Linked DNA regions of Homo sapiens. The protein of the gene in region 1 purifies or fractionates together with the protein of each later gene. This does not show direct contact. Each region holds a gene or a part of one and is shown in the gene's direction. Other genes may lie near its edges.

What was found. The genes of interacting proteins can lie anywhere in the genome.
Region 2: the proteins of CLRN3 (region 1) and CCDC43 purify together in Homo sapiens (affinity purification with mass spectrometry; one large-scale study listed by BioGRID and IntAct). This does not show direct contact.

What each region holds. Positions count from the first base shown.
Region 1 is NC_000010.11:127,882,247-127,887,602, reverse strand, and holds part of CLRN3 (clarin-3), read left to right. Parts: intron 1-3,727; coding exon 3,728-3,907; intron 3,908-5,356.
Region 2 is NC_000017.11:44,682,349-44,686,776, reverse strand, and holds part of CCDC43 (coiled-coil domain-containing protein 43), read left to right. Parts: intron 1-2,817; coding exon 2,818-2,905; intron 2,906-4,428.

The sequences.
Region 1 (5,356 bases):
ATGAATTGTCACCTTAATATGCAGAAAATATGAGTCAACAGGCCCCAAATGACTCCCTTTTGAAAAATCACATCATTAGATCTTACCAAAAGTCACAAACAAAACCAAATTCAATTGTCACTTTCTAATTTACTCTGAAAAAAAAAAAAAAGGAATGTGAACCATTTACCAGTGAATACCCAAAAACAGCTTTTACTAAGTGTGTAAAGCAGAAAAATACTGCAAGCCACTTCAGGGGCCTTGGACACAGCTCCTTTTTTGCTAAGGAGTGAGTTTATTTAGTCCCCAGCAAACTTTGGGATATATCCTGGAGTTTCCCCTTTAGCGTCCAGGAGGAACTGGCGAGTGTGGAATGGGAAGCGATTCCCTCTTATGGTAACTCATCTGCAGCCTCTGATCTGTCCCCCTGAACAGGTGTGTCCTACGTGCTGTAGATTTTTTCCTTCTCTCCTCCGGTGTCCCCCTCTATTACTTTCAAAACAAGTGTGTGCTAAATTGTAGCAATATTAATCCCCCAACGGCTGCACCTCCACAGCGAGCAATAGGCAGAGGCAAGAAATTTCACCTGAGGTCAGGGATGGAAAAAAAGGTCCCAGCCCAGGTGGCCACATCCCACCCACCCAGAAGGCAGGCCCAGCAGGCCCCACCCGTCCCTGCCCAGGCAACAGGCAGTGGCTGGCGTGACCCAGGTCCCGCTAGAGCCCTTCCCTGGGATGCATAGCCAGAGACTATGCTGAGAATTTCACCACGCTCTATGGGTTATTAGCAGAAATTGCAAAATAGTCCAGTCACCATTGAGCACAAGTAGGCTGTACCTGTGCGAGCTGGACTTTGCTCACAGTCCCCAGTTCCACTTGAGGAGCAGGGTGGTGAATTCATCGTCCTCATGCCACTGAGCTGAGGCTTGCCCAGTCTTCTCCTGGTTTGCTCCCTTCTCCCATGGGTTTTCAAGGCACATGCGGCCATGCCAACCGCTGTGAGGCGTATCCACATTGCCCTCCTCCTGCCCTTTTCTCTCTCCTCCCCTTTTCTTTCCTGCACTTTCTCACTCTCCCTTGCAGCCAGAACCCTTGGGTTACCAGTCATTGCTGCTTCTGGGGCTTCTCCCCCTCCCGGTCTAGGAGGCTGCACCCCGAGGCCTGCACCGCTTGGGATGAGGGTCTTCACCACAGAACCCTTTTGCCAGCAGCCCCTGAGGCTGTTTCTCAGGCACCTGATTGCAAGCTGCTGGCCACATCTCCTTCATGCCCACTCTGTTCAATGGGAGGAAACTTTTCTTCCTCATAGAACATTGCTGATTAAAAAGCCAAAAAAGAAAACAATAGTGAACAAATAGAATTAAGAGGTTCAAAAATGGAGTGATGACGTCCTCCTGTCCAAGGGGATTGTCGGGTCTCATTGGGAGCCCCACGTCTATCTGGCTATGTGTGGTGGCCTGTAATCCCAGCACTTTGGGAGGCCAAGGAGGGAGGATCACTCGAGCTTAGGAATTGGAGACCAGCCTGGGCAACATAGTGAGATCCTGTCCCTATGGAACATTTTTTAAAAGGCCGGGCGTGGTGGCTTATGCCTGTAATCCCAGCACTTTGGTAGGCCAAGGCGGGCAGATCACCTGAGGTTGGGAGTTCGAGACCAGCCTGACCAACATGGACAAACCCCATCTCTACTAAAAATACAAAATTAGCCTGGCATGGTGGTGCATGCCTGTAATCCCAGCTACTTGGAAGGCTGAGGAAGGACAATTGCTTGAACCCGGGAGGCGGAGGTTGGGGTGAGCCGAGATCGCACCATTGCGCTCCAGCCTGGGCAACAAGAGTGAAACTCCAACTCAAAAAAAAAAATTTTAAAAATTAGCTGAGCGTGGTCGTGGTGGCACATCCTGTAGTTCCAGCTACTCCGGAGGCTGAGGCAGGAGGATTCTTTGCTTGAACTCGGGAGATCAAGACTGCAGTGAGTGATGATCTTGCCACTGCACTCCAGTCTGGGTGACAGAGCAAGACCCTGTCTCCAAAAACAGAAGAAAAAGAGAGAAAGAGAAATAGAGTCAGAATAAAGTATGTGTAGGAGGCCAGGCTGGCAGGAACTTTGCAGTCACACTCAGCAGAGAATACTCCAGAAATGTGGGCTGTTAATCATGTTGGGATTTATATCCCTCCTCAAATATTTGGAAAGGCTGCCAGGCAGGAAAGGAGCAAGTGAATTTTGTATGATTCCCAAAGGAGAATTAGGACCCCTGGGTTTAAGTCGTGGAGATGCAGATTTGGGCTCAGCATAATGAGGAATTTTTAAATCATTACGGCGATGCAAGGAGGGAAAGGGGAGGGGACTTGGTGACCCCTCCCATGGGTGCCCACAGCACCCTGGGGTCTCCTGCCTCCCATTCTGAATTCTTTGAAACACTCTGGTTCCATTAGGAACTCCTTGACCTTCGACCCGTGGGCATATGCTGAGGGAATACCACCCCTAGGCCCAGAAACCAGAGATCCTACCTGGCCTTTTCGCTTTCTGTTCTTTAAAGCTGCTCCAGATAAAGAGGTGAGGGCTCCAAGGCTCTCTCCCTGGAGACCAGAGAAACCAGAACGGAAACAAAGAGCCTTTCACTTGTTTTTACCCACCTGTTCCCAGTGATGTTGCTGTGGCCTTACTGTGACTCGGAACTCTTCTCCCTAATCCCTTTCTCCCATGTCCTGGTGACTTTCATGGAACATCCTTGTAAACACTATTTCATGTGCTGGCCTCCTCCACAGGGCCTCACACACCCTGTCAGCCCGTGGCTGGGCTGGGCTTACATGTAAGTGCAGCCCTGTGGTGCCTGGGCATTGCATCCTCCACAAAAGAGCCGGTGGAGGAGATGGCTGGTGGCAGTCAGAAGCCTGAGAAAGGCAAAACCAGGAACCCAGGACTGACAGCCAGGGCACCTTTGCTTCATGTTATAAGAGTGTCCTTCCATGCCTGGAGCTCCTCTGCACTTAAGAAATATGCAAATTCATCCAATGCTGTTAGGATTCAGAAGAGTTCTCCTTGGAAAGCAGAGTCAAGGCTCACTCATGGGCGAATTCCCAGCCGCCTCCAGCGTTGGAGCCCTCTGGGCATCTGGTCCTCTCTGGCCCCAGGGAAGTGGAGTCTGAAGTAGGACCCACAACTCGATTTGCACCAACAGAAGTCATTTTCTTATGTCAGCCTTCAGCTTCCACTTTCCTGGTCACCTTTCTTAGGCTTTTCTCTGCTGATGCCACCCCTGACTCATGCAATTACCCCAGATGCCACAGGGCTTGTGGGATTCTCACAGTGCACAGGTTTTCAGGGTGACCTACCCTGTGAGTGCCTCCAAGTGGAAGCCAAGTTAGTGCTCAGAGCAACAGGGGCACTGATGAAACTGGGAAAAGCACCTTGGCAAGGACGGAGCCCGAGCTCAGTAATGGGAAGGCTGTCCAGCCCTGCTGCCGGTATCCAGGAAGGTAAACTCTTTCCTAGGAGACTTCAAAATCAGCATAAATGTCCAGTTATCTGTAGTGTCGCGGTTATACCCATCCAACCACTGATTCAACAACCAGCCTCCAGTGGGGAATGCGGGTCTTGTTCTTGCATGGGTTGGAGGCTCCTGGTATCTCTAACTGACATCCAACAACCAGTAACTCAAGTCACTAAGAGGGTAGGGTGGGGAGGAATGCCAGGCCAGAGCTGGTGTTTGCATTATGTGCTATGCACTCACAAAACATTGTTTTAGTTTTAGAGATACTGAATAATTCTTCCCAAAAAACTCTGCATTCGGTGACTATCCTGTTCCTGGTCCTGAGTTTGATCACGTCGCTGCTGAGCTCTGGGTTTACCTTCTACAACAGCATCAGCAACCCTTACCAGACATTCCTGGGGCCGACGGGGGTGTACACCTGGAACGGGCTCGGTGGTGAGTGGCCCTGTGAGACTCGGTGCTCTGCAGAAAACTGCATCCCGCTTGTCCCCATGTCTCTGCCTCTCACACATGCATGAACATACACAGTCACGTTTACACCAAGGAAACTATGAGGACCTCCCATGAGCTGAGGGCTGGGGTTTATTTTGTCAATCCAAAGTGTTTATGAAGCATCTCTGGAAATAGAATTCTGTTTTAAATGCACTGCTGAGGAGGCTTATAACAAGCCAGGCTTTGCTTTTGAGACTCTAACATAAGAAGTCAAAATGCACAAAAGTCAACAAAATATTGACCGGGCTCCTGCCATGTGCTGAACTCCAAACTAGGCTCTGTGTGGCATGTAGAAGCACACACATGTGCACACACATACACATGCACACGCATGCACACACACATGTGCACACACACACACACACACATGAACACACCAGCACACACTTCCTTCTCTTTCCTCCTCCACATGACAAGAGTCCACTTGGTCTCCACACATGACATCTCTGCATGGTCGTGCCACAGAGCCACAGATAATGGCACATAAGAGAATCTGGGTGCAATACCTTTTTTGTGGGCTACCTGTGAGCCTGGGGTGTTGCTGGGTGGTGTTGCTTGGTTATTTTGTTTGTTTCATGGGTGTGGTGCTGGGAGGATGGAGCCCAGATGGGAAGCGGGTCCCAGCTTTGACTCACAGTCTTCTGGCTTTCACTGGGTTTTTCCAGGGCTCTGCAGCTGCCCATCTGCCCAGAGCAGGGCTGGGGAAGTACCTATTTGCCCTGCCCAGCTGCCTTCAGGGCCTTTTGCTCCCACCAGGCAGTCAGGTTTCTCCTGTTCTTTCCCTCTCCACCATCAAAACTGGACCTTGGGAATGAAGCCTGTCCTAAGGAAATGATTTCTGAGGTGGCTTCATGTAAGCTCCAGGTGACGCATTTTAACACAGGCCTGAAATTTTGAAGCACAGGAAGGAGGCTCTGGATATCAGACATGTCAGGAAGCCTCGGAGGAGGGGCTGAGGGCAGCATCATCCTGTCCCTCCATTGAGTGTCATCCTTACCACGAGGTAGGCGCAGGTGGCTGAAGGAGGCCAGCGTCTCCATGTCATGGAGTAGAGGTGTGCTGAGGAATATGAACAACTGGCTCTCCAGTAGGGAAAAACAAAAAGAGAAAAAAGCCCTGGTGATTGGAATCGTGTAAACACAGCCACATGGCCATTTTCAAACTCCCAATGTGAGATCACTGACGTGGAGTTGAGATGTACAAACTGGCCCCAGCACAGCACAGGTAGGACGGTGAGGGATGCTTTTTAAAATGGAAAAGCATTAAGCCAGGACTACAGGTGGACCAGAGTCACATTACATACTCACACCTCAGCTCTAAGGATTTGGGGTCAGGCTAGTTTAACCACATTCATATATGACTGGCTCTTTCTTTCTGTGCTTTTATTATTTG
Region 2 (4,428 bases), on another chromosome or scaffold:
ATAGAAATTCCTGCCCTCATGCGGTTACATTCTAGCATGGAAAAGCATCACTAGTAAATTATATAGTATGTTACAAAGTGATAAGTGCCAGGGAAAAAGGAGCATTGTAAGTAGGATAAACTTTCCTCTTAGTGCCTTGAACATAGCAGGCACCTTCTGTATAAATAAATGAAGGAATGGATGATTGAACTACATTGATTTGGATGAGGAGACTGAGGAAATAAACCACTTTGTCCTCTTAAGAGTTCCCGTTCTCTTTTGCCTCTCTGCTGCTCCTTTTCCTGCCATTCTTTTTCTTTTGGTGGGGGATTTTAAAAGAGCTGTACCACTTTCTCATCCTTTTTTCTTTTTCTGTTTCTTTGCTTTTCTTGCTGGTGGGGGTTGGGGGAAACCCATGAACTATTGAAACTCTGGACCAAGGAAGTTCTGTGTGTCTAGCATGTAGCTAAAAGGATGCAAGGTAGAGGAAGAAATCCTTTGCTGGGTACAAAATAAGGATATACATAATAAGTCTGTGTTCTGACTCTCCACTTTTCTTTGGGAGATGGTTAAGAACATGGGCTCGGCTGGGCGCGGTGGCTAACGCCTGTAATCCCAGCACTTTGGGAGGCCAAGGCAGGCGGATCACGAGGTCAGGAGATCGAAACCATCCTGGCTAACATGGTGAAACCCCGTCTCTACTAAAAATACAAAAAATTAGCTGGGCGTGGTGGCGGGCGCCTGTAGTCCCAGCTGCTTGGGAGGCTGAGGCAGGATAATGGCGTGAACCCAGGAGGCAGAGCTTGCATTGAGCCGAGATCGCGCCACTGCACTCCAGCCTGGGCAACAGAGCGAGACTCCGTCTCAAAAAAAAAAGAACATGGGCTCTAAGCCAAACTGCTGGGGTTCAAATTGTGTTTAATCCATTATTACTTGTAAGACCTTGGGCAAAGTAATTAACCTCTGTGCTTTGGTTTCCTCTTCTATAAATTGAGAGTAAAATAGTACTTAATGGCATTATTTTAATAATTGAGAGTTCTCATGTAAGGCTTTTAGAGCAGTGCCTGGCACATGGTAAATGCTTAATAAATGTGAATGCTGACAGCTTGCCCTGAGAGGTAGAACGTGAAGGTGGGGAATGCAGCCGTAATGAAGATGGAGGGAAGTGCTCGTGTTTATTAGATGCTTGTTCTTTGACAAGTAGGGTAGGCATTTATATACATTTTCATTTATCCTCAGTAAAATCCTGGGAGGATGTGAAGATCAGAAAGTTAAGAAACTTCCTCACAGATCTGGGATTTGAACTTAAGTATCTCTAACACTAAAGACAAGATTTTTGTTATATCATGCTGAGGAGGGAGATTGGTTGGTATGCAGAATATGTATGCTTCTCTAAAATGGACAGCGGGATGGTTGGACAAGAGACCATTTTGTCATGTATCTCCTCTTTATTATGTGTCAGCAAGCTAATGGATATGATCTAGCATGAAAGTTGATAACCTTAGGGAAGGTTCTGAATTGTATACGTCAGCCAAGGAATATTTCACAGAGGAGTTTTGACTTAGGGAACAGGTTTTTGCTCCAAAAGAATTGGGGGAGGTGGATGGGAAAAGGGAAGATTGTTGATCAAAGGGTATAAAATTGCAGTTAGACAGAAGGAATATACTTTAGTGATCTGTTGCATAGAATGGTGACTATAATAAGTAATAATCGGCTGGATGTGGTGGCCCAGGCCTGTAATCCCAACACTTTAGGGGGCCAAGATGGGAGGATTGCTTGAGGTCAGGAGCTGGAGACCAGCCTGGGTAAGATAGTGAGACCCCATCTTTTAAAAAAAACAACAAACTCAATTAGCCAGGTGTGGTAGTACATGCTTGCAGTCCTAGCTACTTGAGAGGCTGAGGCAGGAGGATTGCTTGAGCCCAGGAGTTTGAGGTTACAGTGAGCTGTGATTGCACCACTACACTCCAGCCTGGGTAACAGAGTGAGACCCTGTCTCTAAAAAGTAATAATAATAAATAAATAATAATGCATTGTATACTTCAAAATTACTAAAAGAGTACATTTTAAATGTTTTCTTTCTTTCTTTCTTTTTTTTTTTTGAGACAATTTCTCTCCCCTCTCCCAGGCTGGAGTGCAGTGGCGTGATCTCGGCTCACCACAACCTCTGCCTCCTGGGTTCAAGTTATTCTTGTGCCTCAGCCTCCCGAGTACTGTGATTACAGGCATGTGCCACCACACCCGGCTAATTTTTGTATTTTTAGTAGAGATGGGGTTTCAGCACGTTGGCCAGGCTGGTCTTGAACTCCCAGCTTCAAGTGATCCGCCCTCCTCAGCCTCCCAAAGTGCTGGGATTACAGGCGTAAGCCACTGCACCCAGCCTTAAATGTTTTCATCACCAAAAAAATGAGAAATATGTGAGGTGATAGATTTGTTAATTAGCTTGATTTAATTATTCTACAATGTGAACATATATTGAGACATCACAGGGTACCCTACATATATATAATATATACAGTTATTATTTGTCAATTAAAAATAAAATAAATATTTTAAGAGAGAATGAGGAAGGCTGCCCTGAGTTGGTATGAATCTTCCCTTGGAGCTTATCAGGATGGAGTGGCTGTTCTTGATGTAGGAGGTGTGGGTTCTGGGACACACAAGCAGGATCAATTCTGTGTCCAGAGCCTCAGAAAAGAAACATACTCTATTGTGGCTCCCAGACCCTTCCATAATTTCACAGCATGGAGAGCTGTGCTTTCTTCATAGGCTTTTTTGAGGTTACTATTGTTTTTGAGGGCTCCCTCAGGAAATTAATTGGTCTGCTTTTCCAACTAGGAAGAAGATTCCCTCCTTAATATCTGCAAGGAGATTGTGGAACGATGGTCAGAAACTCAGAATGTTGTCACCAAAGTGAAAAAAGAAGGTAGAGTCAGAGTTTCTGTGTTTAACTTCCTGAGCCTTTTCCAGCAGCCTTGACTGTATAGCTGTTAGGAAGAGATCTTTTCATTTTCCCCTTGGATGCTCATTTTCCCGAAGATAGTGTACACTGGCAAACACCCAACAGCCTGTGTTACCTTTACTGAACATTGGCTTCCTTTTCTTTTTTTGCATTTTTCCATTTCGACTGACCACAGTTTTCTTCATTGTGGTTTTTTACTTTTTCTTTTTCATCATCTTTCCACTGCTTCTTGTAGATTTGCATTGCAGGTATGGAGTCAACTATATTTTTACCACTTCCTACTTTTTTCATGTTGTCTTTTTTTTTTGAGACAGAGTCTTGCTGTGTCACCCAGGCTGGAGTGCAGTGGCGTAATCTCAGCTCACTGTAACTGCTGCCTCCCAGATTCAAGTGATTCTTGTGCCTCAGCCTCGTGAATAGCTGGGACTACAGGCTCATGTCACCATGCCTGGCTAATTTTTGTGTTTTTAGTAGAGATGGGGATTTCACCATGTTGACCAGGCTGGTCTCGAACTCCTGACCTCATGTGATCTGCCCACCTCAGCCTCCCAAAGTGCTGGGATTACAGGCATGAGCTACAGCACCCTGCCTCATGTTGTCATTTCATAACACAAATTATGGTTGGTATTTGGCTTTATTCAGCTAAACACTTTACCCTTTAAAATGGAAGAGAAATGGGCGAATATACCCACCACTAGGATGGTAAATTAGGTACAGAAAACTCAAATCATAAAAGCCAAATTTGGAAAGATTCTGAACTCTGTACACTGTTGGTTCTCAGTTTTGGCTGTATATTAGAATCACTTAATGTACCTGGGTTGGGGCCCAGGCATTTGTATTTTTTAAAAGCTCCTGTAGGTGATTCTAATGTGCAACCAAGTGTGAGAACTACTATTTTACACCATTGTTTCCTTTTCTTGAGACTGGAGAACTTACTAGTTGATTTTATTTTATAGCATGGCAAAATATTTTTTTTTTTGAGACGGAGTTTTGCTCTGTCGCCCAGGCTGGAGTGCAGTGGCGTGATCTCGGCTCACTGCAAGCTCCGCCTCCCCGGGTTCACGCCATTCTCCTGCCTCAGCCTCCCGAGTAGCTGGGACTACAGGCGCCCGTCACCACGCCTGGCTAATTTTTGTATTTTTAGTAGAGACGGGGTTTCACTGTGTTAGCCGGGATGGTCTCGATCTCCTGACCTCATGATCCACCTGCCTTGGCCTCCCAAAGTGTTGGGATTACAGGCGTGAGCCACCGCGCCCGGCCAAAATATTCTTAATCTAAGAATTCCACCTGGCATAATCAGAAACATAAACAGGACCAGCTTAAGTTGATTTTAGATTCCTGCTTAGGTTTTTGGGATGCCATGGGGAAGTTGAGTGTTCAGAGGCTTAGTTTTCTGTGGTTCTAATGCAGTGCTTTTCAACCTTTTTTTTTTTTTTTTTTTTTTAAGGCAGCAGAACTTCAGTATATAAAACAAGTAAAATCAGGGC